Linked DNA regions of Homo sapiens. The protein of the gene in region 3 purifies or fractionates together with the protein of the main gene of each other region. This does not show direct contact. Each region holds a gene or a part of one and is shown on either strand. Other genes may lie near its edges.

The links.
Region 1: the proteins of IQSEC1 (region 3) and ALS2 purify together in Homo sapiens (affinity purification with a luminescence readout; one large-scale study listed by IntAct). This does not show direct contact.
Region 2: the proteins of IQSEC1 (region 3) and PRMT2 purify together in Homo sapiens (co-immunoprecipitation; one large-scale study listed by IntAct). This does not show direct contact.
Region 4: the proteins of IQSEC1 (region 3) and SLC2A12 purify together in Homo sapiens (co-immunoprecipitation; one large-scale study listed by IntAct). This does not show direct contact.

What each region holds. Positions count from the first base shown.
Region 1 is NC_000002.12:201,772,458-201,780,506, forward strand, and holds part of ALS2 (alsin), read right to left. Parts: exon of another isoform or gene 7,522-8,049; intron 1-7,521. UniProt on the Homo sapiens protein: May act as a GTPase regulator. Controls survival and growth of spinal motoneurons.
Region 2 is NC_000021.9:46,651,007-46,659,055, reverse strand, and holds part of PRMT2 (protein arginine N-methyltransferase 2), read right to left. Parts: intron 7,251-8,049; coding exon of another isoform or gene 7,050-7,250; exon of another isoform or gene 6,212-7,049; coding exon of another isoform or gene 6,002-6,211; exon of another isoform or gene 3,959-6,001; intron 312-3,958; coding exon 136-311; coding exon of another isoform or gene 132-135; exon of another isoform or gene 1-131. UniProt on the Homo sapiens protein: Arginine methyltransferase that methylates the guanidino nitrogens of arginyl residues in proteins such as STAT3, FBL, histone H4. Acts as a coactivator (with NCOA2) of the androgen receptor (AR)-mediated transactivation.
Region 3 is NC_000003.12:13,068,133-13,076,644, forward strand, and holds the start of IQSEC1 (IQ motif and SEC7 domain-containing protein 1), read right to left. Parts: upstream 5,298-8,512; 5' UTR 4,883-5,297; coding exon 4,860-4,882; intron 1-4,859. UniProt on the Homo sapiens protein: Guanine nucleotide exchange factor for ARF1 and ARF6. Guanine nucleotide exchange factor activity is enhanced by lipid binding. Accelerates GTP binding by ARFs of all three classes.
Region 4 is NC_000006.12:134,030,308-134,038,356, forward strand, and holds part of SLC2A12 (solute carrier family 2, facilitated glucose transporter member 12), read right to left. Parts: intron 1-8,049. UniProt on the Homo sapiens protein: Insulin-independent facilitative glucose transporter.

The DNA.
Region 1 (8,049 bases), on a different chromosome or scaffold from region 3:
AAAATCTGACCTGAACTGATATGAGGTTATTTATCACTTTTATCCCTTTAGTGTGAATATTCATACATCGTGTTGTAGAAATATCAGTATGAATAGGGCAGCACCACAGATCCCACAGGAAGTGTTATATAATATATAGTTTATGCATCTTACTCTAAAGAACAAAACATAAATCTGAATTCCAAAATGCACCTTGCCCCAAGGGTTTTGAATAAAGGACCAGGAATCTATATTCAAAAACAACTATCGTTTTTTAGTAGAAGTCTCAAAACTTTTAACTATTTTATACTTAACTTGGTTTCTTTTATGTACTTTGAACATTTACTTCATTTTGGAGAGTACACTGGGGAGTTGCATTGCTTCCAGTGGGACAGTCTATGGATGCTTTCATGATTTTTTTTTTTTTTTTTTTTTTCATTTTTGAGATGGAGTCTTGCACTGTCGCCTGGGCTAGAGTGCAATGGCATGATCTCAGCTCACTGCAACCTCCACCTCCTGGGTTCACATGATTCTCCTGCCTCAGCCTCCCGAGTAGCTGGGATTACAGGTGCACACCACCACACCTGGCTAATTTTTGTATTTTTAGTAGAGACAGGGTTTCACTATGTTGCCCAGACTGGTCTTGAAATCCTGACCTTGTGACCTGCCCACCTTGGACTCCCAAAGTGCTGGGATTACAGGCGTGAGCCAATGCGAAGGGCCAATGATTTATTTCAATGACGATTTACATTTGTTTCAAAAGTTTTAAACCAATTTTATGGTGAACACTCACGGAGCACCAAAATGAATTTTTGCAAGGAATATCCTGCCTGCAAATACTCCATCGGCTCATCTTCTCAATGGAGGAAGGAAGCCTGGGTTCTTAAGTTTCATACAATGCTGCCAATTTGGTGAAGAAGAGGTGAATAAATGAGAGATGCTCTGGGGGCAGAACAACTAGTACTTGGTGATTAGACAAAGGTGGGGGACCAAGGAGAAGCAGGTATCAGAAATGATCCCTGGTTCTGCCTCAAATAGCTGTGTGTTGGTGGCTCCATTTCCTGAAATGGGCAAGAGTGAGGGAGATACGATTCTGAAGCAAAGATAAGATTCTGGTAGGATAAAATTTATTTTTAAGTTCAAGATGTCTGTGAGAAACCCAAGAGTACATATTAAGTGAATAGCTGAATATATGAACATGGAGTTCAAGAGAAAAGTCTCAGCAGCTGCTAAACTTGGGAGGGCGTATGGATAGTGTTTAAAAACAAGACAATAGATAATGTCATTGGGTATATGGAAAGAGAAAGGAAAGCGCAGTGTCAAGCTTTAAGGAGCTCCTGCGCCTGGAAGTTGGATAGGATGAGGATCGGACAAAGAGGACTGAGACTGAGAAGTGGTCTGCCGTGGGCACATGAAAGCAAAGGAAAGCACTTCAGGGAGGACGTCAATTAGGTCAAGGCAGCTGGGGTCTTGTAAGATAACTAAAGTGTCCATTGGATTTGCCAACACAGGTAACGGCTGAGCATGGCCACAATCTCAGTGGTTTGTTTGGGCACTGAAAACCAGATTGAAGTAAGCTGAATATAAACAGGAGGTGACAATGTGGAAATATCTTTATTTTCAGTGGGTGATCCTTTTGAAAAATGTTGAAATGGCAAACAAAGAAATGGAGCAGTAGCTGAAGGGGAATGTGAAAATGAAGGGTTTTCTTTTGCTGGAGGTTGGGGAGATGGGAGGAAGCTGAATATGTCTGCATGACAAAGGCTGTGGTCCTGGATACAAGGATGATGAGGACAGTGGGCAGAGCCAAAGTCCCAGACAAAGTGAAGGAGGATGCCATCCAGAATATATGTGGGGGGATTGTTTTTTTCATAAGAAGAAAGGTCTACGTTTTTGAAAGAAGAGAGATCACAGGTACAGATATAAGCAGAATTATACATTTTGTGGTGGGAGGATAAGGGTTCCATATGATGGTACCTGGAAGTGAAGAGGACTTCACAGTATGCATGTTGTATAGTCTGTTTCTTTATTTTATCCCACCCTGCTATACATTTTTGTAAGCTGCTTTAAATCCTTTTGGGAAGAAGGCAGGATATAAATAAAAATTTTAAATGTGGTAGAGAAATGTGTTGAGTGTATTATCCCAAATGCAAAGAGAAAGTTAAATCATGCAGGATCCTATGTATTCATCTCTACTCAACTATTTTCTGGATAAAGTCTTTTTGGCTTAATTCGGTGAAAGGTAAATTTGTGAGTCATAAGTATAATAACTTGCAAATGCTTAAATTTCAACCACTAAAACCACATGTATTTTTTTTCATCTACTATGTTCCAGGTATTATGCTAGTCTAAAATTTCCATGGAAGCAGAGTGACAAATATCGTATTTTCTAGTACATCCCAGCAGCTTAGTCCTGATATATAACAGGTACTCAATAAACATCTGTAAATACATGACTTCCTGCCCTTAAGAAATTTCCATACTAGTATGTTCTCTTTCTCATTAGAATAATGGCTCTCTATAGAGTTAGACAGTACCCTTAAGGGATAAGAAAGCTAATTTACACTAGCAAAACTGGGCCTTCCTAGTCTTATTCTCCTGTCTCAATTACCGGTTTAAAATAGTAAAACAACAGTAATAATTGTAGTTATAAGAGTAATGTTAATCAGTGATTAGAATGACAAGACATTCAGATAGAAAGGCAATAAAAATAATAGGTGAGTAAACTGTATCATAATGCCCTGAATGGAATATAGACATTGAGTGACTTGGATACAAAATTACCATAGATTTCATGTAGCCATTAACACTTCCTTTTTAAAGTCTGAGTTGGTTACATTTTATTACAATGTAGTAGAGTGACAAGTGATTTGGATACAAAATTACCATCAATTTCCTATAGTCATTAACACCTCCTTTTTAAAGTCTGAGTTGGTTACATATTATTACAATGTAGTAAACCAGAGTTTACACTTTGCAGTAAACAATAACAGAGTCTGGTATTTTACACATGGTAAATGCTTAATAAATAATTTGCTTTTAGAGGCTAGGTCAATGTTTACACATGGATTATGGTAACCTTTGACTCAAACACCTGACTTACAAATAATCTATACACCAACAACAACTGCTACTTCCTGGATATCCTGCCACTGAAGCCTTCCCAACCACTGTGGAAGGCTGAGGAAAACTCACCTTGCACTGAAGCCTTGGCCAACTAACCACCAAGAAGGCCACTTGGAACCCCACGCCTCTCAGCCTTAACTGCTGCACAGAAAGCATTGCCTGATACCAGTATGGGAGCCAATGAGCCTTCAAATCTTGACTCAGAGTAAGAGAATTCAGTAAATTAAGGCATTGGATATATTCGGTAGGCTGGCCTAGAAAGCTACTTATTAGTTATAATGTTGTTACTAATAGGATATGCACTAAGTCACTGATTCAAAATATATTTTAAGCTCCTGGAGGTCAGAGACTATGACTTATTCACCGGTATACTCTTGTACCCATAATAATCATTCTGAACAAGCTGGTTACATTTAAGTGAGTGCTTGAGTGAAAGATACAGCCCCTGATTTTCAGTTGCAATCCACAGACTTCCACGCTATAGATTTCTAGTGCCTGTAATAAAAGTCAGTAACAGATACAAAAGAAAAAAGTGTCTTCTCCTAATAGAAACTCTCATATATAATTTGCTAAAGGTATATCCTAACAATGAAGACACTTTTATCTCATGTCACTTTAAAAATGGTTAAACAACTCAGAGAAGTGTTCCTTTCTCCCTTTCTCCTTAGTACACAGACAGCTTTTGGTGCAATGAGAAACAGGAAGACTTTACAGTCTTTTTTTAATGCCTTGCTAATTTCATGCTGAAACTTACTGAAACTACACTCTCCTGGTTATGACGATCCTCTAATCGGAAATTATTCATGGTGGAGTGGGGGGAAAGTGTGTAAACATGGTACAATAAGTTCCCAGCAATGCCCATTTAGCTCTTTTTTGTACCCACTGCATATTTTAAACACATTTTTCAGGATTATTAAATAATAATCCCATGATGCATTGTGATGAATATTATAATACTAACAAATGAATTTCAAATTCCCAGGTACTGCCACTATTTGTGCCTGTTATTACATGGTACAGTGAATGTCCTGGTAAGTCCTGACACAAACTACTTATTCCGTTAATATTTGCAACTACTCTCTTATTAAAATGGCCACAATTTTTTCAAAGGCAATATTAGATTTACAGTTCAAAGTATGATGACTTCTTTCACCAACTGATAACAGTGCTTAGGATCATTCAGGGGCCACATAACTAAACAGGAAATACACATACTAAAAAATATTATTCTCGTGATACAAGTTTCACTTGCTTTAATAGTGCTAGTAGCAGGTTCTCTTTATTAGAAATAAAAATATTGTTTAACTCACAAGTTTAAATACTGAGGTTACATTAGGGATCAGCTACTAAACGTATTATTCATTAGTCAACCATTTAACACATTGTCATCAGGTTACTTACTAATATCTATAGAGACAACTATTTTCTTTGAGCAACAACTGGGATACTTGCATTCAAGGTATAAACTCAAGATAACTACGTTGTAATAAAATGTAACCAAGTTAAGCTTTTCAAAGTGTTAATGCTAATACTACACAAATCTGTAGTAATTTTGTATCTGAGTCACAACATGTCCAAATTCCTTTGAGGGCCTTATTATACAACTTGCTCCCCTATACTTCCAGAGTTCATGATTGGTATATGCCTACATTTCCCAAGCATCTCTAGAATGTTAATTCCCCTGCAGGCTTCATGTCCTAAAGAAAGCATTTTCCCAGGAGCACAAACAGCAAAGCAAAACTGACCAAATAATTGGTCTGTCTCCTCTCCTTAGAAAAGCTTTACATAGTGGAGCTGCACTGGCACATTCCTTTCTTATTGCAGGGAAAGAAGAGTTCTTTTTCCACAGTCTCCTAATTTGAGGGTACAAAGTAAAATAAAGCAAACATATTGGGAAACAGTCCTGATTATAAATAAAAATGTTAAAGTGCTAGTTTCACAAACTATCTTAACTATACATAAAACTGTAAAAATAAATAACAAATCTATGTACTCATCATCCAGTTTTAACACATATTAACATATTTTCATATTGGCTTCAGCTCTTTTTTAAAACACAAGAAAAAATAAGTTACAGAGGTGAAGAAACTCCACTCAGAATTAGTTACTATTTCTAAAGTTAATGTATCCCATTCCCACGTTTTCATATTTACTTTTATGTACTTTCATTAGATATACACATATCAATAAATAATGCATGCTATTATGTTGCTTTCAAAGTGTACACAAATGCATCTTACTGTATAAATCCTTTAGCATTTTGCTTTTTTCACCCAGTATTACATACTTGAGATGTATATATGTTGGTAAGTATAGATCTAGCTCATTCATTTTTATGAGAAGATAGTATTGAATTGCATGAATAAACCAGTTTATCCATTTCCCCACTAATCTTTACAGTTGGATTGCTCTACTTTATTGCTCTTTTAAAGAGCTGCTATAATCATCCTTGTTATATGTTTGCTTAGCCAATTGCCCCAAGTTTAGTTAAGATCTTGGCTCTACAAAAATTTAGGCTGTGGAAGAAAAAAAAATCCTGGAGTGAATGTTAGCCCACCCAAATGCCATTATTGGGTCTAAACCACTCCCTTCCTGATAGGGAGGCCATGTGAACTGAAGAACTGTGTGATGACTCAAAAGAAAAATATTTAAAATGTGATAATTAAGGGAAACATGAGATGATCAATTTGTGGAATTAATGAGATGAAAGCTGATCTTCTCTCTGGACATAATTCACTAGCAGCTAAGCGAAACTCTGCCAACAAACCCCAGTCTTTTTCTCATAGGTATTGAGAAAACTGTAAATTTTCTTCAAATTTGAAAGAAATATACAATAGCTCCAAAAACTACCAATTTAAATATTTTTTCCTCTACCCACCTGGATCAATCAGTTCAGCTACATGCAGGCAAACATCAAGACATAAGCTAAAGAAAGCACCATCACATATACAGATGAATAAGAGACAGGGAAAGGAAAATTAAATGCAATATGAAAAAGAAACAAGCCAGAGATTGTTGCTATTTTATTGATGACTACCTAACATTTTCTTAAGGACTGACACCCTACAAAACCGAGTACTTTCTTATTACAGACAACAAAATTGTTTGGTCATCAATGAAGGGTTAAGAGAAAAAAATCTGTTAAAACTCTCTACCAGGAAAATTCATATCCTGAATACACTTGAAATACGTGGTAGATTTAATTCCACAAAGTTATAAAAAGAGCTAAATGATTTAAAAGTCACAAATCCTCACAGCATGCCTCTGAGTGAGAAAGGTACCTCATAGTACCCAAAGCGGGCCTTCCTTTATACAAGCTTAAAAATCACCACTCTGCCTTTCTTCCTAGTTTTTCAACTCATACTTTACCTAGTCTCACATTAATAAATAATTGTAGATTTTTACAAGTCAGTCACATTTTTGAGATTATCATTAGAATGGACCCAGCAGCTACTGCTTTAAACCCAGTTTTCATGAAAAGGTAGGAGATTCCACCTAATTACAAAAACACTAACATCAAGACTCATTGAAGTTCTTAGCATACCCTTTGCTTCTTTAACAGTCAAAGTGCCCAAAGTAAGTGTTTCAAATGACAGCCCAAATTCTGAAAAACTGAAATTTGGAGAGAAGGGATTCCTGTTTATATTGAGTACATTTAAAAAGTAAATGGCCTGCATAATGCCACTCAAGTTTTGTTTTTTTCCCAAAATTATCGGTTTGGTATTTCATTTTTCTGGATCATTACAGTTTCAAATTTTAACACTGTTAAACAACTTTGACGTTTTCTTGCTATAATTATGAATTTTAAATCTGCTAATACTGGTCATAGTTTAGAAACTAATAAATTCAAACCATGTATAGATTCTGTCAGTATCTTTTTCACATTAAAATGTCCTTATGGAACACCAAAATTACTACAGAACAACTTGAAATCATATTTTATAGCTACTTCCTTAAAATATTCAGTTCCCTTCCCCATCACTTAAGAAAAGAGTCAGTTTGGATCATGATGTAGTGGGAGGAATTAATTATAAAAACAGCTAATATGTATTGAATATTTACCATAAAACAGGCACTGTAATAAATACGATACATGAACCATTACACGTAAAGGTACTGTTATCAGGAAAACATTTTTATCCCCAATTTAGAGACAAGAGAACTGAGGCAGAGAGATTAAATAACTTGCCCAAAATCAAAGATGTAAATGGATGTGACTCTGGGTATGTTCAGATACAAAGCCTAGAATCTTAACCACTATGCTTATGTTATCAAGGTTAAAACACCGTAGTTTACTGCAAAAAATTTTTCACTGCTTTAAATTATTCATTAACTCAAAGGTCAACCGGTCACTCCAAATCATATGATAAATGGGGGGGAAAATGTGGGACCAATAGGTTTGCTGAAGTTTTGTACCTGCTCAGAATAAACATATCACACAATTTTATTCCATATAGCCAAATATAAGGGTAACTGAGTAAAGATCTTCACTTGGGTACAGCAGTCAGTTCCTTCTCCATCCTAAACCAGAAAGAAAGCACTGTTCTTGGATATGCCACTTCAACAAGAGTGTTTTTTCTCTTCCACCATCAAAGCCTTAAGCAATAGAACGATTCTACCAGTCTACTGTTGCCTGTCTCCAAAGCAGCCCTATTATCCGAGGACGAACACCAGCGTCAAGGACCTGTGTTATTTTTCTGGCTTCGCTTCTCAAAATAACTTATCTTCTCCTCTTGATGAATTACTTGATAGGCTCAAAGACTTGCCTAAACTACTAATTCTTATTATCAAAGCTATTTTCTTTCTCCGCAACCGCCTTTTCAAGTAGCCCTTGGTCCACTCTTCAACGCGATTTGCACCCTGTGGCAAGGCCGCCAGGGACACTCAGCAGGGTTCCAGGCCACGGACCCCAGTTTATCAGCTCAGCGCCTAGTGTGGGCATTC
Region 2 (8,049 bases), on a different chromosome or scaffold from region 3:
ATTGTCCTATCTGGGTGCACAGGTACCCTCATTTATCCAACCGTCGTATGGGATCTCCCAGGGCCTTGGCCCACCTGCAGACTGTGGACCAGGAGGCCCCACAAGACGGTGCCAGTCCCAGCTGTGGACACTTACTTCAGAGCGCTGAGGTTGAACTCGTACGCGTTGTCCCAGAAGAGCACCTTGCTACGATAATCCTTATCAGCACTGCAGGGCACAAGGTGCAACGCAGCCATGGTGGGCCAAATGACCCCGTCCTCCTTCAGCCAGGCATCCCGGGCATACAGGATGGACTCGATCATGAACTCAAACTGCATAGGAGTGAAAGACACACAGGAGACACATCACAGGCCCCGCGGCTGCACAGGCCTCTCACCACCACATTCGTAACACTAGTCTGACAGTTCTACAGTTTTAGCCTCAAGAATATTCCTGCCTAGGCCAGTGTACCATGCAAGAGAACATCTCGAGGGTTTATTTTATGCCCACACGTCACTGATGCATCTCACAGCCTGGGTTTAAGTCACATAATTTCCCATTAGAACTATGAACTGGAGCAGAGCTAAAAGCAAGGACAAATCTTCACTCTTGTCCCATCTCAGTCACGGAAGAGCTCGTAGCTACCAGATTTTGAAAGAGCCCTGAAGTGTTGCCGGGTCCCAACTGTTACATAAAATATATTTGGTCCGTAGCATTCTCAGAATTTTCACACCCTTTAAGTGGACTGAAATCACTGCTTAAGAAACCGAAAGCCACGCAGGCATGCCCTGGCCATTCACGGGTCCTTTGGTCCACCTTGCATCCCTCAGAAGGTCCCAAGTCAAGGGAAGCACATCACATCTATGACTGAGGAAGTGGGGACCCAACGCCCTCAAAGGCCAGGCTTTCTGTCTGAACCAGAACTTGCTTCAAACACAGAAAGGAGTAGAGGGAGCACCAGCGAGGTGGGGCCAAGGCCTGTGGCCCCTGCAAACCACCCAGGGAGCCTGCACTTCATCCTGTAGTTGATGAGAAACAACAGAAGTGTTTTGCTTCCTTAAATAATCTCAAGCTGCTTTTATTACAGAAGTAATACATGTTTTGTACGGAAAATGTAGAAAACTTAGAAAAGCTCAAACAAACATAAAAATCACATATTAACCCAGTACCTAGAAGGAACCACTGTTATCACTCTGCAGTTTACCTTCAAGTATTTTTCTACACACGCACACAAAAAATATATACATCTTATTTTTCAATCTTATTTTTTCAGTTATGTAGTGAAACAGCTTTTCTGGCGTACAGCCTACGAACTTGAGCGCTTGTGTGGATTTTGTCCTCACAACCACAGCCAGCATACACACAGCTCTGCCACCCAAAACACTCTTCACCCTTTTCTCTGGTGGTCATGCCCTCCCCGACCCCAGCCTCTCCAGCCACCGATCTGGTCTCCATCCCCATGGTCTTGTGTCTTTTTGAGAATATCATACAAATGGAACCAAACAGTACATAACCTTTCAAGACAAGTTTCTTTCACTCACTGTACCGTTTCTGGGGTTCCTCCAAATTACCTGTTTCAATAACTGGCTCCTCTTCACTGCTCAGTGGTATTCCACTGTGTGGACGCACCAGTTTATCCTTAAGGATTATCCAGATGAAGGACACTTGGGTTGTTTCCAGGTTTTGTTTTTTTTTTTTTTGCAATTATAAAGAGAGCTAGTATAATCATTCACATACAGGTTTTTGTGTGAACACAGCTTGCATATCTCTGGGTTGAACACACAGGAGAGGGACTCCTGGGCATAAGGTGAGTGCACATACAAGTCTATAAGAAAGCACCCACCTGTTTCCACAGTGGCATGTTCCCTCCAGCAATGCATGACTTTCAGCTGTTCCTCATCCTCGATGACAGTTGGTATTACTATCAGATTTTTTTTTTATTGTAGTCATTTTTCAATGGGTGTAAGTGATATCTCACTGTGGCTTTAATGTGCATTTCCCTGATGGCTATGCTGAACATCTTTTCATGTGTGTATTTGATATCTGTATATCCACTTTGGTAAAGTGTCTGTTCAAGTATTTTGCCCATTTTCAATTGGCTTGTTTTCTTCCTGTTGAGTTTTGAGATTTCTCTGTATATTCAGAACACACACTGGATATGTTCTTTGCAATATTTTCTCCTAATCTTAGCTTGTCTTTTTTATTCTCTTAGCATCATCCTTTTGCAGAGCAGTCATTTTTAGTTTTGATGAAATTCAATTTATCAACATTTTCTGCTATGGATCACGCTTTTAGAGTAAAAAGTCTTTGCCCAAGTCCAGGTGATGAAGATTTTCTATGATTTTTTCAAGGAGGTTTATAGTTTTACATTTCACACACTTAGATCTATGATCAATTTTAAGTTCAGCTGTGTATGAGATGTGAGGTTGAGGTGTTGTTTTTTAGATATGGATGACAACTATTCCAGTAACATTTGCTGAAAAGACTGTCTTTTCTCCATTAAATTGATTTTTGTACCTTTGTTAAAAAAAACCCATTGACCATATTTGTAGAAATCTCTCGTCTCCATTCCATTGACTTACGTGTCTGTCCCTTCACCACATTGTCCTGATTACTGTAGCTTCAAAATCAAGTAGTATAGTTCCTCCAACTTTACCCTTCTTTTAAAAAATTCTATCAGCTACTCTAGTTCTCTTAGTCCATTTTTGTGTTGCCAAAAAGGAATATCTGAGGCTGGGTAATTTATAAAGAAATGAGGTTTATTTGGCTCATGGTTCTGCTGGTTGGGAAAGTTCAGGATTGGGCATCCAGTGAGGGCTTCAGGCTATTTCCCCTCACGGTGGAAAGCAAAGGGGAGCTGGCACGTGCAGAGACCACAGGGTGGGAGCAGAGGCAAGTGGGCGTGCCAGGCTCTTTTTCACAACCAGCTCTTGTTGGGACCTGAAAGAGCTAGAACTCACTTATCTACCCACGAGGAAGGGCATTCATCTATTCATGAGGGATCCACACCCATGACCCAAACACCTCCCACTAGGCCCCACCTCCCAACACCACCACACTGAGGATCAAATTTCAACATGAGATTTGGTGGGGACAAACCATAGCACTAGTTCCTTTACATTCCATATACATTTCATAATGAGCTTATCTATAAGAACAAATCCTGCTTGGATTCTAATTGGAATTTTATTAAGTCTACAGATCAATTTAAAAAGAACATACGTCTTTACTAGGTTGAGCCTTCTTATCTCTCCATTTATTTAGGTTTTCTGGGGTTTCTTTCATTATCATCTCATCATTTTCAGCATCCAGATCACATTTTGTTAGATTTCTAAGCCTTTCATATTTTTGAAGCTACTGTGATATTCTTTAATTTCTAATTGTACATTGCTAAGATATAAAAATGACTTCTGTATGATGACCTTGCACTCTGTGATCTTGTTAAACTCACTTACTAGTTTTAGGAAATTTTCTCATAGACTCCTTAGGATTTTCTGTAGGTTTTTTTGTAGATGTCCTATGTCATGTTAAATTTCCTTCCCTTTCTAGTTTGCTGAGAATTTTATCATGAACTGATGTTGAATTTTGTCAATTTTTTTCTGTATTGATATAATCATGATTTTTCTTCTTCAGACTGTTAATATGGTAGATTACACTGATTGATTTTCAAATATTGAACCAGCCTTGCATTCCAAGGATAGTTTCTTTTTTTGTTATGGTGTATTATTATTCCTTTTATATCCTGCTGGTTTAAATTTGCTAATGTTTTCTTGAGGATTTTTACATTTATGTTCATGAGGGTTATTGGTCTGTAGGTTTCATATTTTGTGTTAACATTGGTTTTGGTATTAGGGCAATGCTTACCTCATATAATGAGTGAGGAAGTGTTCCCTCTTCTTTTCTGAAAGTTGTTTAGAACTGGAGTTTTTTCTTCATTAAATGTGTTGATAGAATTCACCAGTGAAATCATTTAGGGTAGAGATTTACCTTTCAGAAGGTTTTTAAACTATTAATTCAATATCTTTACTAGTTATTGGACCATTCAGGTTATCTATTTCATGTTAGATGAACTGTGGTAATTTGCAGTTTTCAAAAGAATTGGTCCATTTCATGGACCTTCTTTGCTTCTCACTCTATGTATGTACACTCTATGTACATACATAGAGGGAGAAGAAAGAAAATGATAACTCAAGACTGTTTCAGGAATACAGTTGTTTCTTGGTGTCTATGGGGAACTTGTTCCAGGACCCCCGTGGATATTCAAATCCTTGGATGCTAAAGTCCCCCATATAAAATAACGTGGTTTTTACATACAGGCTACACACATCCTCCGACAGACTTTAAATCATCTCTAGATTACTTCTACCTAATACAATGTCAGTGTTATGTAAGTAGCTGCTATACTGTATTGGTGTGTTATTTGTATTGATGTTTATTGTTGTATTGTTATTTTTATTTTCTGATATTTTCAATACATGTAGGTTGTATCTACAGATGTGGAGCCCACAGATACTTGACCGTACTTCAAATTCTTGTCTTCTTCACCAGTCGATTGCTACTATGTCTTTGTTCCAGAGTCCTCAAATAGTTTCTCCCTGTCTACTCTCCAGGATTTATAGCTGCATTCAGTGGGAGACATGAAAGGAGTATGCCTTCTCCATCTTATCTGGAACTGAAGCTAGGTTACCACTATGTCTAATTTTTAAACACAAAATTGGAATCATACTGTACATACTCTGTACTTTTTTTAAAAACTAGCAACATGTCACCAACTTTTTCCAAAGACTGTTAAAAATCTTTCTAAAACATAATTTTTAATGATCATATGTATTGCTACAATTCTGTTGTTTCCAATTTTCTCCCCATTTTAAACGGTGCTGCCATGAACATTTTTTAACATAAATTTCTGTACAAATTTGATTATTTCCTTAGGATAATTTCATCAAAAAAATTTGGTGCCTGGTCTCTGGGTCCAGCTGCTGGGAAGGAGGACACTGCAGTCTCAGCACCCACCAGCTCCTCCTCCTTCCTCCTCCCCCGAGGTGAATGTGCCCTCAGAAGTGCAAGCTGCTGATTAACTATGCTGCATTTTTTATGACGTGAAAGTTCGGAAATGCTCCACGCCAAAAAAAAAAAAAAACAAGAAAAGAAAAAAGGCTGTCATTTTTTGTCCCAGTGCAGACAAAGTGCATTGTTGTAGAAGGAGGTGAAGAGACCTTGGTTGGAGATGTCTAAGTGTAGCCATAAGCGGTCCTTCAAGCATGTGGTGGCAATGTTTCCTGAAAAAGATGTCTCTGTACTTTGTATGAGGCAAGCTTTAAAACCAAGGAATCCAGAAGAGTTGATGGTTTTGTGTGTGTGCGTGTGGGCACCAGAACTAGCACCTCTGAAAAGTAAAATGATCTACATGAGCTCCAGGGAATGCAACCAAAAAGAAATATCAAGGCATAAAACATGAACATCAAGCAAAGGGGCCAGAAGTCCTCCCTTAGGCCTGTCCCACTGGGAAGCCAGGCGGCCTTGGTTGTGGCCTCTGCAGGGTGCCCTGTGTAGATCGTCCTTCAGTGCCACAAACTGAAAGTGCCCGTGTTTACGCTTATCCTCTTGTTGTGTAAATAAAGCAAATACATTTAGGCCAGAGTCTTGCTGAGGGGGAGCTGTCCCATCATCTACACCACACATTCTATAAATATGTGCAAACAGCCTTAAATACATCCGAAGTCTGAAGTGTTATTGGTATGAAATTAAATTCTTACTGGCCACGTGCCTGTTTTCATGAGCTGACTTATAAAGACTTTCGTTAAGCTCAGGATTTGTGATAATACAGTCAATAAAACAGTACAAGGCTGTGTGAAGAGAATTATTACATCTTTGTTAACCTCAGCAGTTACTTTGTTTCTTTTGCTTAGAAAATTCGTCATAATGTGGTTGTAATTTTGGTCCAAATTCTTTATTCTTCCTTGAGCTAAAGAGAATAACGGAATATAATATGTCCTCATCACATATTGACAGCACGAATACACTAACAACAGTAAGACTGAGTCTGGCAGTCTTTTAATTCTACCAAATGTGCAATGGAGATCCTCAGTGACCTTGCAAAGCGTCCTGAAAGGTCCAGGAGGCAGCCCCTGCACCTGCAGTGCCACTGGCTAGTGGGAGACTGCTGAGTGTGCAACCTGCTTCTCGGAAATCGTGGCGTGGCCTCAGGAGAACAAGCAAGATCCTGTAACAACTAATGATAACGCAAATTAGGGCTCAATTGTCACCTGCTTTGTTAACAAAAATGATTAAATGGTCTGTTGACAATCTAGGACACCTGTGGTATCTTTACTTGCGTCTCCTTCAGAACTTTGCTGCTTCTGGAAAAACAAAAAAATTTTAATGCTCTTTGACTTATTCTGCCCTATTTTCCTTCAAAAGGCTTTACCAATTTACACTGCCAAAAAAAGGGCATGGCGGTGCACACTTCCCCACAACCTCAGCATCGGGAGCATCAGATATTAGAGGATTGCTCAGCCAACTTCCCAGGTCAAAACTATTACAGTTACTTTCAAATTGTTGGTGGCATTGAACAACGTTCAAGCTCCTGGCCTCTGGCATTTCTCTGCCTTTCTAGTCCCTGCTCACCTTCCATGAGGTTACCTTTATCTTATGCTTTTCTTATTGCAACTCTTTACGTCACACAATTCTTTAGCTGCAATTCTTTAGTTGCATTTACCATTTAATAGTTTTTAGCTGTGCTAATGTATGAAGGGGAATTTTTTGTCAAGTATTTTATTTGACAGCTTCATTATGAACTTGGTTCTTAGAAAAACCTTTCCCATCCTAACAACAAATAAACTTGTAGCAATTTTTTTGTTTCCTCCTTTTCTTAAATATTTAACTCTTGAGCCCATCTGAGGTTTATTTTAGCAGATGGTGTGAAGAAGGGCCTCTTTTCTCCAAATCAGTCGTTCCAGCACCATCTCTGAACAACTACATGCCCTTGCTGCACTGACTGAAAGCTGCCCCTCCTATGCTAAACGCACATGCACTCTTCTCTGTCTTCAGACTTTTACTACATGTCAGCGTCAGAGTAGGAAGATGGGCCAGGAGAGATGAAGGCCTGAGGGCTGAGGGGCTCTGAGAACAGGCAGACAGCAGGCAAGGAGGACATGAAGAGGGACAGACGCACAGGTGCAGGGGAGAGGCAGACAGCAGGCCAGGAGGACGTGAAGAGGGCCAGACGCACAGGTGCAGGGGAGAATGCGGCAGCTCAGGAGAGGCGCAGCCTGGGGACGGAAAGTGAAGGTGGGTACAACCGCACCAACGACTCCCAGATTCATACCCTCCCTCCCTCAAATCCGACCAACCCTGTGCCCCAACAACTATCGCCATAGGAACTCTTGCAGCCCCGTCTGCCCTGTTCTGGGCCTCCTTGGCCTGAGTAATGATGGTGGTGGTCCCTCAGTCTCCCTGGGGGGGAGTCTGAAGTCGGAACTGCCTCAAGCCCTCACCTGCAAAGCTCCGCCTTCCCCCTCCACTGCCTGCACTGGAGAAAACCACCACATGGTCCTGTCTGACTCACCCCAGCACTCCTCCAAATGTCCTGCTCAGGGTGGCCCCTCCAGGCCATCGCCCACCGAGACCCCAGGCCATGTCCCCACTGCCCAACCAATAGCTGGCCCTGCACATCGGATGGGCATCCTATGTTCAAGACCCACACAGATGTCCACCCTCCCCAGGGCCCTCCCTACCCCGGCCCCCAGCCAGTCCTGGTGGCCCACTCCCTGCGGCTCAGGGCTGGGAGGCACCGTCCTGCTCACGCCAGGCCCCCATCAGCACATCCTGCCTGCTGGCCCTGCTCTGCATCCCCCACACCTGCCCCATGCCAAGCCCTGGCTCCTGCATCCTGACAATAAAGCCATGGTCAGTCCTGGAAGTCTGTGCACCTCCCACACAGAGGGGCCTCCCCTCACACAGAATGTCCCAGGCCTCTCTGCATGCTGGGGCTGGACCACAGCCAGTCCCTGGCCTCCAGTCCCGGCCACACATACCCAGGGGCCTCCAAAACACAGCCCACCTCTTACT
Region 3 (8,512 bases):
AGGGTCCTGCCCCGGGGCTGGGGCCAATCCAGGCCTTACGCTTCCTCTGAGGCCCAGGGAGGATGTGGATGTCGGACCTGTCCTTCACGGATCCTTTGGTGGAAGATGGTGGCAGGTGGGTCAGAGGTAGGTGCTTGCCTAAGCAGACGCTACTTGTTGCCCTGCCTGTCCAGCAACTACCAGAAAAGTCTGTTCCTCTCAGTCTCTAAAATTCACCCCAGACAGGGTCTCTAAGTCCCAACATCATGCCAGGCCATGCCAGCTTTGGGTATACAACGGGGAGCAGGCCTGGGCCCTGGCCTTGCAAAGGGGCAGAGGCAGTGGCCAGGCCTCTGAATTTTCAGGCCCCAGGCTCATGACACCCCCTCATGGTTGGGAGGCCCCAATGCAGTTCCCCAACCTCTTTAACCCCCAGTCTTTTCTTCATATCTTTAGCTTCCAGCATGACGATGTGACTCTTTACTCCAGGGCCTCCATGAACAGCCCCAGCCCCTTTACCTCTCTTCTTGGTCCACTCTGCTCCAGCAACACCATCCTCCCTCTGTGGCCCAATCCTGTCAAGCATGCCCTCACCAGGGCCTCTGCACTTGCTGTCCCCTGCACCCGGGGCCCCCACTCTTCTCCTGGATAGTTCCTCCTAATCATTTAGATTTCTGTTCAAAGGTCACCTCCTCCAGGAAGCCCTCCTCACTTCCTGAGTGGCCACACAGTTCACTCAATCCATTCCCATTGGGCTCTCTATCTTCTTCATTTCTCTGTGTCCTTCTCCCCTGCAGTATCCCCTGAGAGCAGCACCCTCTCAGTGGTTCCCAGCACTGAGCTGGACATACAGCAGGTGCACCATGAACACTAGCTGAAGGCAGGGAAGTGAAGGCCCAGGCCTGGTTATGCGGCCTTGGCTGCATATCCCAGTCTTTCTGAGTTATAACCAGGACCTGCCCAGTGGCTTCCTGGGGCTGTAAAGGGTGGATAGATGCTACAGCATTCTTGGAAAATAGCCCAGTGCTGTGTGGGTCATTCATAATAACCATTTTTAATAGTGATCACTGCATGGCAAGAAAGGCTACCGGTCATCACACGTGCTTGAGTGAAGACTGGGCCTCCGGTTCCCTCCCTGCATCTCTCTCGGTGGGCTGGGGCTGCTCTTCCCTGGCATCCAGCCCAGGCCCACTGTCCAGCAGATGCTGATAACTGTGCCTGCAGAACTGACCCAGCCAAGGTGATAATGGTGAAGGCTCAATGCACAAGTTTCTTGGAGGTGTGTGTGTGTGTGGAATGTTCCAGGCCCAGTCCCACCAGTGTCCCTTCTTCTGTCTAGGGGAGACCCACCAGGGCTTCGCTTCCTTCATGAAGGCCCCACTGCAAGCAGCAGGTCAGGGCATCCCACCAGAGGGAGACCACTGCCTCCTGCGGGGGCCGGCAGGTCATCATGTCCCCCAAACAGAAGGAAGAGAGGGGTCGGGACAGTTCCAGGCAGTGAATGAATGATTGAACAGGCATGGGTAGGCGAGTGCTCCACTGGCCTGGCCAAGCAGCCCACATCTCACACACCACAAACTCCTCACAGCCTCACTTCCTGTGTTCAAGTGACAGGATGTGACATGCCCATGAGGACAGAGGGGCCCCTTGCAGAGATGATGAAAAGGATGCTGTAGTTACAGAATTGAGGGCCATCCTTCATTCAGACACCATTCATGAAGCTGCCAGTACAGCAATGACCTCAGGTGTTAGCAAGTTTGATTCAGGGTCTGATTCTTGGAAGCCTCCTGATGTTCCCCCATTGGGTTAAGAAATCTTCTCCTGCTTTTGTTGTCATCCTTTATCCCATCCAGTGTGCCACCTTCACGATGGACTGAGCCCTGACCGGGACAGAGTCTCGATTCCATAAAGCTCCCTTGGGTGCACACCAGGGGCCCAGAGAGTGGAAGTGGCGAAAATGGAGGCTAGGGAGTGAGGACAGTGGGGTGGGGGTGGGGGCCCGCCGGCAGGGCTCCACTAGGCTGAGGATAGCCTGGCTGTGCCATGCACAGGGCCGCTGGAGCAAGTCTGTCCCGATTTGACATGTGGCATGCTGGGGAAGGGACACCACTGCCAAATGTACGGCAGGAAACAGCTGTGTGACCCCAGTCAAGTTCCTTCCCCTCTCTGAGCCTCAGTTTCCTCTTCTGTAAAACGGGATCGACAGTATCACATTTTACAGCAGTTGGTGAGACCCCATGAGGCAACTAAGCATGAGAACGCTTTGCAATCAAGTTGGGCAGCTCTGATAGTGGCTACAGTGCAACTGTTGGGAAAGTTAAACATCTAGAGATGCTCAACACCCCATCTCCTTTCCACACTGAAAGGCAGGGTAACAATAAGGTCTGAGCAGCAGGTGCTGGGAGAGCCTGGGCCTAGAAGTGGGCCTGCCGCGGGTTCTGGGTGGGGAGTAATGGTGGGCAAACACAGGCTTATCAAGTGCAGCAGGGTAACCTCAGGAAAGGCCTGCTCTTGGTTACAAGATCCTTGCGTACAAACAGAGCCACCCCCTCCAAGTATCTTTGGTATTTCTGGTGCCAATAGGTTTGGTGGCAGAGCGGGGATGGCCTGGGAGTCACAATGCTCAGACTGGGAGCCTGAGAGCTGGAGAAGAGTGAAAAGACCCACAGAAAAGAAAGACAGTGAGCGCTAAGCCCCCTCGGGCCAGCCCCTCTCTTAGGCAGGAAGGCTAGACGAGCTTATTCCAGGAATCAGCAAATCCACCAGAGCCACGTGTTCAAATGCAGGTGGCTGGGCCCCCAACAGATTGAAGCAGACTCTCCAGGGAAGAGTATTGGAATCCATATAGAACATTGTCCCTGCAAAACTGCAATTGGATAGGCTTGGGCAACGCAGCCACAGTGAATAGCTGCATCACGGGAACATCAACCACACCTGGACATTAAAATCATCCGGAAAATGAAAAAGATCCTGAGGCTTGAGCCCTCCCCCAAACCTAGAAACCAGAATGTCTGGGGGTGGGACCCACACAGTTTTTTTTTGTTTTTTTTTTTTTGTTTGTTTCTTTAACTGCTCCTCAAGTGATTCCAGTATAGCTCCTGGGCTACAACCCCCACCCCAGGCTAGTATACTCCAGGGTTCCAGTAGAACTGTGCTGAGCCTCAGTTTCCCCATCTCTAAAATGGGGTTCTTAGTGCCTGCCCAGACAAGGCCTTTGTGAGGATGACATTTCTGAGCATTGGAGGCAAGCAGGCACTGGGCCAAGTAATCTGAATATGAATTGTCACATTTCATCCTCATGACATCTCCCCTCCCCGATGTAACAGCCCTGAGAGTTTAGAATTTCTCTGGCATCAGGCTCCTGGGCCCAGGCAAAGGTGTGGCAGGGAGGAGACAGCTGTCTCAGGAGGACCTATTCCCAGCCACTGGGGTGGAAGTTCCACGCTGGGAAAGGATTTACTATTTGTTTCAGAAAATGCAGCGAGGGCCTTGCCACAGGGAGTGAGAACTTTGGTGTGCTCTGCTCGCATCGACAAACCAACCTGTGAGCTTCTCCACTAAAAAAGCAAGTGAGCATCACAGCGAACCAGAGGCCACCGTCATCCCTCGAACCAGAGGCCACCGCCATCCCCCAAACCAGAGGCCGCCATCCCCCGAACCAGAGGCCACTGCCATTCCCTGAACCAGAGGCCACTGCCATCCCCCAAACCAGAGGCCACTGCCATCCCCCAAACCAGAGGCCACCGCCATCCCCCGAACCAGAGGCCACCGCCATCCCCCGTGGGTTGCCGCCTGGCACTGCTGACGCAGCAGAGGCAGAGGTGTGTTTACTTTCCCTCAGTGGAGGTGACGGGGAGCTGCCACTCTATCAGGGGTTCCACAGGCCCCTGCCATGGTAAGGGGCCTCCATCGATTAGGGAGGCCTTGGGGTAGCCCCCAGAAGGCTCCCCACATACTGCTCCAGGCCTCCTTTTCCTAGCCTTGCGACTGAGCCCAGCTCAAGAGGACTCAGCCATGCTCTCTAACCTCCTAAGGTCTGAGGTCACTGCACAGCCCCAAATGAGTGGGTCCTGGGCAAATAGTTTAGGCAGGTGGAGACCTGACGCTGGGCCTCAACCCCCGCAGCCGAGGGTCCCAGAGGAGGGCAAAGGTTGCTCCTCCTAGAACAGCACAGTGCAGCGCCCAGAGAGCTGTGAGGGAAGCTGGCATTCGAACCCCACTGCCCCCTGGGAAGCCTGGCTAACCGAAGCGCAGGCTTTGGTTTCCATAAATACCCGGGCCCGTGATGTCACCGCCCCGTGCAGACTTTCACAGCCTCTGCTGCTGGCGTGAGGCCCAGCACACAGCCGCTCTGCTGCCAGCCCACAGAACACCTGGGCACACAGCTGGACACTGATGCCTCCGTGCTAGGGACGGTGGGCTGGACCTTCACCTGCCCTTGGAGGACGCAGCATCCTGGCCACTGCCTCAGCCTGCCTGCGACCTTCTATCAGGCATGGCTGAAGGGCTGGCCATGGGCGTGCTGGGCAGAGATTCTCTTCCTAAACAGGCTATGGGCTAAACCAAAGCCAAAACAGTAGGAGCCGGTCTGGGCACCCTGAATGTGGATCTGGGAGGGGGGATACCTGCTCTCACAGTTGGGAATTTCACAGCCTGCTGAAGACCTGCTGACTAATAGCCTTTTTCTCATCGTCATCACCAACAAACACCTCCGCTGCAGGGGCCGAGCGCCGGCATCCCTGCTGGGTGGCCAGCTCCCTCTGCAAGTCACCTGCACATCCACCTGCCCCTCCCCCAACGATGCCCCTCACTCCAGCTCCCAGCTCAGCCGGGCCCCTCTGGCCTCTGGCTTCAGGCAGAAACCTGCCACATATACTCACAAATAGCGTCTTCTGCAAGCCATCCTGTGTGAATCCGTTCTTCCCTGTTCTGGCTCCCTCTCCAGCGGGGAGGCTCAACGTGTTTCCAAGAGGAGCAGGCGGCTCAGGCAAGAAGTGGAGGGGAATAAAATTAAATCGCGGGGCGAGTCACATTCCCGGGGGTGGCGGGCTCCTCCAGGGAGGCTGGGGCGGGAGCGGGGGGCGGCGCCAGCAGCGGGCTGTGGAGGGCCCTGGCACGTAGCGCGCGCTCACACCGTGCCCAGGAGCGAGCGAGGACGTCGAGTAACCGTGGTCGCCAGGCTGGGCGGGGGCGTCCACCTCGCTGCTACCTGGGCCCACCTTGGGGTTTTTCCCTCCCGTCCATCCGGGGTGCGGGGCGCGGGGATGAGGAGGGGAGGGTCGAGAGAAGGCTGCCCCGGGTTTGCTCTCGCAGCATCCGGAGAAGGGGCGGGCGCGCCGGAGCCTCCCCCACCCCCCGCGCCCAAGGAGCAACGTAGTGCGGCCGCGCCGGACCAATCGCCGAGGCGCTGGTCGCCATGGCAACAGCAGCATCAGGCGCGGCCGCTCGGCTGCGCCCTCGCGGCAAAGTCACACACCCGGCGGGGCGCGGGGCGCCGGCCCCTTCCTGGCCCGCGCTGGAAACCTGGAAGTCTGTTGCTAAAATGCACGCGCCGCGCGGAGCCTACGATGACACTACTTTCCAAGGCGGCTTTTCTGCCTTCGGCACTGAGACACGCGAGCCGCGGAGCTCTCGGGGCTCTGGCCCTGGAGTGAGGCCGGCCGACTCCAAGGCTGTCTCTGCCACTGAAGGGCGATGAGACCTTGGCAAGCCGCGTCTCTCCTGGGAGTCTTGATTATGCTACTGTGAAAGGGATCATAACAGCTATACCACGGGGTTCCAGGAGGGCGCACCACGCCAGTAGCTGCACGGTGGATGGCAGAGCAGTCCTCGTTTGTGCCAGTCCTGTCCCAAAGGGGGCTGCACGTGGCTAGGGAGAATTTCTGGTCTAGCTATGGTGCCTCTTCCTCTCCCGAGGACCTTCCATGTGCCGGGCAAGTATCTGCCCTCATGATGTTTACAGTCTAAGGGGAAGCCAGGAAGTAAGTGTGCAGATATAGGATTGCACGTGGTGATAAGGATCAGGATGAAAAGAGAGCAGGAAGAGGGGAGGCAGGGACCCCAAGAGAGGCGGGAAGGAGGCTTCTGCCATCAGACGGGGTGGTCGGGAAGGCCCTCTGTGAGGCACGTGTGGCTGAGACTCGGATGACGCAAGAAGCAGGGGAGGAGCTGGCGTCAAGGCTCTGAGGCGGAAGGCAGCCTGGTGTATTTGACTGGCCCAGAGGAGGCCAGCGTGGTGCAGTGTGCGACAGGGAGGTGGAGGGGAGAAGCGCACATCCATCCTCGGCTCCCACACCCGCCTTTCCCACACAGATTTCTCTCTTCCTGTCTGATGTTCATCTGATCCTCTCTGCTTCCTCATCTGTAAACCAGGAATCCCAGACCTATCTCAGAGGCATGTAGATAATATTCTTCCGTGCACGGTAATCCTCAAGACAACCCCAATGAGGCCTAATACTATCATCCTACTTCACGGGGGAGCGCATTAAAGCCAGAGGTTCAGCAACTGGCCCAAGCCACATAGCTGGCGGGCAGTCTGGCTCCAGAGTCTTGGTTCTTGACTGCTTGAAAGCTGCCTCACTGGGAGGAATAAATGAGAGAGGGAGTAGTTGAGACTGGGAATCGGCTGGATGTGGATGGCAGCCCACAGGGCCATTTCCCTTCCTCTTTCCATTCTCTCCAGATTCACACTCACCGAATTTAGAAGGAGTGATGCTGCATCCTTGAGTTCCATTCCATCCTTTACAGGGGAGGAAATGAACCTCAGGGGGTGAGCGATTTGCCTAAAGTTGCACAGCAAAGAGTGGCAGAGGTGGGACTAGGACCCCAGTCTTCCAGCTCAGTGTCCTGGTAGGGAGCAGAGGTTGGAGCTGCGGCCTCAGGTGGCCAAGGTGAGGCATCGAACAGAACTGCATGACGCTTCCCGATCTGCCCTCTCCAGGTGAATCCATATGCATGACCAATCTTCCTGTAGCACGGACCTCCCTCCCTGAGTCATGTGAGGAATTCATATTTCTGTGGGTTAACATGTTGCAGAGCCCACCCCACCCCTCTCCTCACTGGAGTTTCAAAAGATTTTAATAACATCAAAATTCAGCCACTGCATCAGGAGGGCTCACTTTGTGTCAGGTCCAGTTGTTTCATGGTCTCAGTGAATTCTCAGAAGCGCCCTACGAAGTGAACATAATTACCACTCCTGCTTAGATGGGTTGCACCACATACGGGGGTCTCCCATCAAGGCAGCAGCAGAGCCCAGACTAACTCACAGCCTGGCTCGGGCTAGAGCAATGCCCCTCTCAGCCGCCTTGCTCAACTAGCGATTCTCTTCTCACTTCCATCTTCCAGAGGCGGAAACAGGCTCAGAGTGGTGAATTGGATGCCTTGAGTGTGGAGCACCCAGTGTCCCTTTCCTGGGCTTCCTCTTTTGCTCCCTGGGAGGCCCATGACATGCATCTGCACATCCGTTGCTTCTTCAGCACTTCTTCTTATAAACGTACTCTCCTTTTCCTTCCATGTTATGCTGTTATTTCAAAGCAGAGGAAATGGCAAGGACCCTGGCATTCAGATACAAATGCCAAGATTTTAGGCTTTTACAAAACATCATTTACAGGGCACGTGGGTAGTGCCTACAACCCACCTGCACTGGCGCGGTTTTGATTTCTGACATTCAATATCCAGCGCCGGACCAGGCACAGAGGAGGCTCCAAAAAGCGTGGAGCTGGGATTCCGACTCTGATCTCTGACTACGGAACCCACAAGTTCATCCCTTCAGGCAGTGAGAGGTCAGAGAGTCTCAGAAAAGGGGCGCGCCCACCTGTGCAGGCTGAGCTTCACCTACCTCATGACCCCAAGCCCTCGACATCCAATCTCAGGGCAGATTTGTCAGCCACACCTCCCAGATGCAAAGCCTGTGGTCGTGAGAGGGTCCTGATCACATAAGAAGTGGAGCTACAGAACTCTGGATGGAATTGTCCACTTTCCTCACTTTCGCAGTTGTAACCAGATGTCTGGAGTGGGAAGCAGGGGCAGCCAGCCTTGGGGTTGCTGCCCTGTGACCCTGGTTATATCACAGAATCATCCACCCACTCACCCACCTCTGCAGGCTGGAGACTAAGGCACAGTGGGAACCTAGCATTCAGACAGCGTTTTCATCCCCTGGAGTTTCTGTAAGTGCCCAAGTTCACCCCTGCCCTTGCCTCATCATTGTGGACTGTGGGAAGCCGCTTGGATCAGAAGGTGAGAGCAGCTGCCAAGGGGTAAGTCCAGAAACATCTCACATCCATCTCCCTTCCCTCAACGGGAAAATTTCCACCCTGCAGGCTGGCAGGAACATTCCTGCAGATCGGCTCACTCCTGCAACCTGCGGCCATCTGTCCCCAAGGTGGGAGGAACATGACAGCATTTGGGAAGAGGGAGGACGGAGAAGGTTGGAGCATGCAGTCCACAGATCTGACAGTCACAGAGCTCTTCAAGGCAGGGAGCCCCGAATCCCAGGGATTCAGGATCTTCATCCAGGGCTGGGCAGAAGTGAACC
Region 4 (8,049 bases), on a different chromosome or scaffold from region 3:
GAGGTGGGAGTGGGCAGTGTGTGAATGCCTTAACAAAGTCAAGGTTTTGCTAAACAGAAGGAAGGAAGAAATGTATGTAGTGTAAGGAACCAGCAATATCCCTTACTCATTCTGAGTAAGGAGAAAGGGGGATGGAACACAGGCAGAACAAGGAGAATTTACCTTTATATTGTTCTTTCGTTAATGTTCAAATCCAAGGAAAAATGTCAAAAAGTTAGTAACTATTAATTTTTGGTGGTAGGAACACAGATGTTTGTTATATGTTTGCAACTTGTCAAAATAGAAATAAAACAAAACAAAAAAGCAACAGAGGGAAGAGTATTTCAGGCCCAGGAGAAAGTAATTTCCAAGGCCTTAGGACAGGAAAGTTCTCATTATGTTTTAGGAACTGTCAGATGGCCAACATATAACATGTGGGGCACATTGTGAGCCTGGAGCGGTAGGACGGAAAGGGCTTAAAATGAATTTGGATAAGTACAGAGGGGGCACTTCAAGTAGGGCCTTGTCGGTCACAGTGATGACTTTTCATTGTGTTCCAAGTATAATGGAGCCAACACCCACTGAGAGGTGTAGAGGGCATTGACGCTATAGGTTTCTTATTTATAAAGTCCACCTTCACTGCTATGTAGAGATTAGTTCTTCAAAATGCAAGACTGGCAAGACTGGTAGCAGGGAGGAGTTTGTTGCCTTGGTTTGGACAAGAGATAATGGTAGCTTAGACTTGGGTGTTAAGAGTGGAACTGGAGATAAGTAGGCAGATTCAAGACTTATTTTGGAGCTAAAAACCACTACACTTGTTCAGGGCTGGATGTGGTGGCTCACGCCTGTAATCCCAGCACTTTGGGAGGCTGAGGTGGGTGGATCTCCTGAGGTCAGGTGTTCAAGACCAGCCTGGCCAACATGGCAAAACCCCATCACTATTAAAAGTACAAAAATAGCTGGGCATGATGGTTCATGCCTTGTAGTCCCAGCTACTCAGGAGGCTGAGGCAGGAGAATCACTTGAACCCAGGAGGCAGAGGTTGCAGTGAGCTGAGATCATGCCACTGCACTCCACCCCGGGCAACAGAGCAAGACTCCATCTCACAAAAAAACAAAAAACAAAAAACAAACAACAAACAAAAAAAACATTACACTTGTTCAAGAATTGGAGATGGGGGATAAAAAATGGGTCAGAACCCAGGATGGCTCTGTGGCTTGAGCAGGTGGGTGGGTGATTTTACAATATTTGATATACTCAATACAGTACTATATGGGGCCAACACCCATTGAGAGATGTAGAGGGCATTGTACTATATACTGTGTAGCGCAACATACCAACATAGGGAAGATTAGGAATAGAACTGGTTGTGAGTGGTGATAAGAGGAGGGGCAAAAATCAAAAGTTTCATTTTGGACTTAGTAAAATGGTTTATTTATTTTATCTGTAAGACATTCAGGTAAAAATGTTAAGTAGGGGATTGGGTATACAGATTTGGAGCTTAAAGATAGGTCAAGCCTGGACATATGTATTTGGAAGCCAGCAGCACACATTTGGTATTTAAAGCCACAGGAATGGGTGAGATCACTTAGGAAGATAAAATAGGGGAAAAGGAAAAGCATGATCAAGACTGGGACCTAGGCAATGCCAATATTTAGAAGACTAGTGCCAGCAAAGGAGATGGAGAAGAATCAGAACTGAGGTGTAAGTCAAATGTTAGAAATGTGATTACACACACGGTTTTCATAGGCTGAGCTAAGGCTGCCTTTTCGGGGTTGGGGGAGGGTATAGTTAAAAATGCTATTCAGCTCTAGTGAAATAAGCAGGTCAAATAAAGGTGATCTAAAGCTCTACCACAAATACTCAAGGTATTTTCCATCTCCAGGATCCTAGTAGGCTATGGGAATTGGCAGCCCCAAAAATAAGGGGAAAAAAGCACTGAATATTTAGATGGAGGAGCAAATAAAGGTGCAATAATCCACAAGAAATAAAGCAAATTTATGAGCATTTTGAACAAAACCCAGTAAACTGAAATTAAATCAGCAATTTATCTAGCTAATCAGAAAACAAAATATTTGGCACTGTTACATGGCAGGCATTTACCTGGGTACAGGGAGAAATATATATATATATATATATTTATATATATATATATATATATAAATATATATATATATATTTTTATATATATATATATATATTTGTTCTGTTTCACTGCTATATATATATAGCATATATACCAACATGGAGTTATATGCTACAGAATTTAGCTGTGGTCTCAGTTGCCTGAATTTTAATATCTTCCCTATTATATGCTTTAAGGGACACTGCCCCAAACTAGCTTTCCCACTTCCTTTACTACTGATACTTAGGACTACTGTTTGATCCTCAGCCTGTCCATTCGGGGTTTTGAATTCTAATTCACTGTATAAGGCTAGTCCTTAATGCTTCTGAGATTGTGGCTCTGATACCACATTTGTTCTGTTTCACTGCTATATATATATATTATATATATATAATTTATATCTATATATATAAATTATATATTATTTATATATAAATATATATTTATATAATATATTACATATATTATATATATAAATAACTTAATTTTTGGTGGTAGGAACACAGATGTTTGTTATATGTTTGCAACTTGTCAAAATAGAAACAAAACAAAACAAAAAAGCAACAGAGGGAAGAGTATTTCAGGCCCAGGAGAAAGTAATTTCCAAGGCCTTAGGACAGGAAAGTTCTCATTATGTTTTAGGAACTGTCAGATGGCCAGCATATAACATGTGGGGCACATTGTGAGCCTGGAGAGGTAGGACGGAAAGGGCTTAAAGTGAATTTGGGTAAGTACAGAGGGGGCACTTCAAGTAGGGCCTTGTCGGTCACAGTGATGACTTTTCATTGTGTTCCAAGTATAATGGGGCCAAAAAACTTAACATTCTGATGATATCTTTATTACCTATTATTTATTAATTTTGTGTGCTGTTTGACTTTTTTGGCATGCAAAATGACTTTAAAGTACTCTCTTATAGGTTCATTCATGTCCACGGTTTCCATATTCCTTTTCCTATGTGATCTTAAAATCCTCAACAATGAATTCCTCTACCACAAGGAGAATTAGGTCAAATCTTCACATTTGGATAAGAATATTGTATTATTCTTATCTCTGCTTGTCATTGTTCATTTTTTCTATGTTTGCTGTGTTGATTAGTGTATGTGTTTTGGCAATTGAGGACTGGTCTCTGATATTCTGATTGGAGAAATAAGTGAATTTGGAGAATGGACCACCTGGGAGGCCAGACTGAGTGAAGGACCTGGGAAGGGCATGTGGTGTGACAGAGGGCACCTGGGGCTGCGGAGTTAAGGATGCAGGGGAATCAATGCCATAACTGCTTTAATAGCAGAAGAAGATTGTCCTTGCCACCCTGTGCTTCTCCTCTTCCTTTCTTGTTTTCCTCTTTCATGAGATGGAAAATACTGTGTCCCTACAATGAGAAAGATGCCTTGAGATGCAGGAGTCCCTTCCTTCTGTGCTCCATTATCTTACCTTAGAGAGCCTGAAGTGGTTTGCTAAGTGCTAGCTTCTCTGTCTGGAGGAAAGAGCTCCTGACAGAAGAGGGACCCAACCTCTTCTGCTGCTTTCTGGACTTAGATCATTTGCCTGGTTTCTCGGGCCGGGACTCATAGCACACTGACAAATGGGAATATGTGCAAAGGGTCTGGAAGCCATCCCAGTTTGTCAACGTTCCCCTTGAAACCCATGGAGTATAATTCTTCAGAGACATTAAGGAATTATTTTTATATGAATCATAAAAACCTTTTACAATTTTCTATATGATAACATATATCTCTTTCTTGCTATCCATCTTTCTATCTTCCTGTCTCTGGGCAATTTGCCTTTAAGAGGTTAAAACCTTGTACAAGATCATTCTAGAACCCTAGTCCCACATGGACGGCTTACCAACATGGAGTTATATGTTACAGAATTTAGCTGTGGTCTCAGTTGTCTGAATTTTAATATCTTCCCTATTATATGCTTTAAGGGATACTGCCCCAAACTAGCTTTTCCCCTTCCCTTACTACTCATATTTAGGACTGCTGTTTGATCCTCAGCCTTTCCATTTGGGGTTTTGAATTCTAATTCACTGTATAAGGCTAGTCCTTAGCGCTTCTGAGATTGTGACTCTGATACTTCAAGACTTCCATCACAGGAAGTTTTCCTGGTGCTACTTTACAAAGAGAGGCATAAGGAGTGGGTTTTTCTTGTGTGTTGGTTAGCCATGACAAGAGCAAGATGCTATCCTATGGATGCTGGAAAGTAGAGATACCTTTTTCTAAGAAATCTGGCAGTGAACAGGAAGCAAGAGATCAGAATGTGGGTTAAAGCACTGGCAGGAAGGTGGGGTTTGTGTTTGTCTACACACAGAGGTGAGAGTTTGGGCAGCCACGTGGACTGAGGAGAAGTTGTCAGTGGTGAAGGACAGAGTAAGATGAGGATTCACAATTAGCACTTTTCCAAAAAATACCCAGCTTTCAAGTCAGTCTGCCTTTAATAATGATGAAGTAGAGCATTCCCAGTCATTTTGCTCATGGCTTTGCTTCACAGGGGCCCTTCCTTTACACCCCAGTTCTCCCAAAAAGTGCCATGGGGAATTCTTGGCTTTTTGTGGACATTACAGAAGTGGAAACTACCTGGAGGCTTGTAAGTGGTACCCCATAGGCAGTTTTGTTATGCCTATCCTGTCTTCTTCCTGCTGTTGGGGCTCGGAATAAGATACCCCAAAGTACGGCACATTGGTGTGCTGAGTACTTTGAACTAGACATGGGAACATAGGAAAGGCCGCTGGCTGCCTGACAAAAAAAAAAAAAAAAAAAAAAACTGTGTGTGCATGCTTTTCAGCTGGCTGTAGGATATCAGCCAGAAACAAGGTCTTTCTGACCCTCTCGCATTTTCCCCTGAAGCAAGTCATGGAAAACAGAATTCCTTTCCCCAAGGTGGGTCTCAGAAACCAGAACCACTCCGCCCCAAAGCAAATCATAAAACCTAAAAAGGTCACTCTCTCCCTTTTCCCTTGAAAACCTTATTTCATGGGAGTCCTGCCCTCTGCCCAGGAGGAAGAAATGCCACACAGTGAGGCCCAAAAAATCTGGACAGGCCTTGCTGGGTTTCTGTTTCAGTTTATTACTATTGACTCATACCCTTTTGTTCAATCACATTTCTACACGCCCATCCTTTCTTCATCAAACCTAAGCATAAAATCAGACATTTTTCCCTGAGTCTTTAGATCTTCATTTTGAAAGCCTCCCATGTCACATCAAACTTTGATTAACTAAATTTGTTATGCTTTTCTCTTGTCACTCTGTCTCCTGTGATAGGAGTGTTAGCTGTGACCCTGATGAGTGAGGAAAGGCATCACACCTTTCTGTCTCCACACTGCGTTGCTAGAAGTTCAGCAGCAGCAGTAGGAGGAAGATCTCCAGTTTGCCTTTTGATGCAATGACAATTCTTTATTAAGGTGATAAAGTAAAACTGTTCCTATCAAAGCTGTGATTCAATCAAGCAGCTTTATGCAAACAGGTGCTGAGACCTGCAGCACAAGAGCACCAAGGGTGCCACGAGACTGTAGCACCAGCCACCACCACAATAGCTGCATTGTCTGCTGGTCAGTGAGTCAGATGAAACCACAACTGTAGCTGGCACTCAACACGAAACAATCCATTTTTCACAATATTTGAGTTTCTGCCTGCTTTCTTCTTCTCTTTCTTCCCCATATGCCTTTTATTGCATATGGACATAATGGGCACGCAATAAACACTTGCCAGCTGACTAAATCCTACAGCCAGCTGAAAAGCATGCACACACAGGTGGTTTCTTTTTTTCTTTTTTTGGCAGGCAGCCAGGTAATTATATAGCTTGACCAACTGTGAATACTTTACAAATTTAAAAGACACCCCCACCCCCACTTCATATTTTGTTCAAGAAAAACTTGCAGTTGTCCAAAAATGGCCTTGCAGCTATGGCCTGCCCTTCCTGTGCTCTTTCTCCCTGAACGCCTTTGTTCCCAACTCATCTTTCAATAGTCATCTCTACTACCACCTCATTTCTGAAGTCCACTTCTCAGTCCTCAGCATTATCTTGCCCCCGGCTCGTGTGTGCCCACTATGCACAGAATGTGTGTTCAGAGTCCATCTCATTTTAAGGCACTCTTTGATTGACCTGTGTGTCTTCACTATTAGACTGGAAGTTCCTTGAAGGCAAGAACCCTGCCTTTCTGAGACCTGTCCTTTCACCGCTAGCCTTCTGGCACAAAGTAAATACTCAATGTTTGTCGAGTGAATGAATGAATGAATGAAAACAACACTCCAGAATACTGATCCTTACACCTCTACTCCCCACAATTGTATCAACAGACTATGGTTAATCTGTAGTGTTATATAATGGTTAGCATCTAGAACTTTATCTTCATATAAATATTTAGCAACTGAATAGCAATCCATTAGCATTTCTATGAAGGTTTTAGCGCTATGTTTAGCTAGCTGATATAGCACCATTTCAGGGACCATAAAGTGTTTTATTGTCACAACTATATTTATATTTTATTAAACTTCAGCCCTATGCATGGAATTGTTCTCTAGTTGTTCAGACAGAGTATTTAGCAGCCCTGTTTCAGTGGACCAGGTCTTCAGGTTCCATAACATTCTCCAGGCACCAACTCTCCAGCCCATCTACACCACTAGCTGTTTCCAGAATCTTCTGTGTTCTTTCCCAGGTCTGTGCTGAGACTCAGGCTATTCCCTTCACCACAGGGTCGTTTGCCTTCCTTCACAGCCCAGGGAAACTCGATTCAATTTTTTTTTTTTTTTTTTTTTTTTTTTTGAGAAGAAGTGTCACTCTGTCGCCCAGGCTGGAGTGCAGTGGCGCGATTTCGGCTCACTGCAACCTCTGCCTCCCAGGTTCAAGTGATGCTCCTTCCTTGGCCTCCTCCTATTCATTTTTAAAGGGCCAGCTCCAATATCCCCTCCTCCATAGGCTTACCCTCTTGGGTTAGCATTTTTTTTGGCTTTTGTTTTTGTTTTTTTTTTCAGACGGAGTCTGGCTCTGTCGCCAGGCTGGAGTGCAGTGGCATGATCTCGGCTCACTCTCCACCTCCCAGGTTCAAGCGATTCTCCTGCCTCAGCGTCCGGAGTAGCTGGGACTATAGGCGTGCACCACCATACCTGGGTAATTTTTGTATTTTTAGTAGAGACGGGATTTCACCATGTTGGCCTGGATGGTCTCGATCTCGTGACCCCGTGATCTGCCTGTCTCGGCATCCCAAAGTGGGATTACAGGCATGAGCCACTACACCCGGCCAGGTTAGCTTTACTCTCCCTTCTCTCTCTTGCCTTTACATCCAAGGTTTTACAGCACCCTGGATTATATTTCACTAGGTTTGTATCCTGCCTTAGACTGGGAGCATGTTGGGAGCAGGAGTGTCTGTATCATGGGTGCCAGTGCTCAGTAGAGGTTACAGGATGCCCCAGGAAGGAGATGCAGGAACTTAGCAGAAGGCTCACCTCCTATAACCTCCCAGAGGGCATGTCCCAGGGAGAGTTCTGGTGTGGTGTTTCCAGCCCACCAAATGTCCAACATGCTGCTCCTTGGCATTGGACCCTGCATGGCCATGCCTGTATTGACAAATACTGGGTACAAGGCTTATCTAGCCACTATCTCCCACCCCTCCCCTGCACCCTGATCCTCTCCTCAGCACACAGTGAAACTCAGACAAAAAGGAACTTTGGCCTCTCTCAACACCTATTATTATTTGAATTTTCTACGGAAAAAATATAGAAATGTTGCGATCTTTCTTTGTTAGTTTTCCAACCCCGGGTTTGATTTAGTAGCAATTTCACAGACATCCTTTCCTGAAACTAATATTCTTCCACTCCTATTGGCTGAGGAGTTAATAAGAGGAGACACTGTTTAAATTTGCATGTTAGTACTCCCCTGTGCTTTGATTTGTGGTTCACTTTTTCTGCCTGATTATGTGTATTACTTTCATTCTTTTTCTTTCTGCCTTT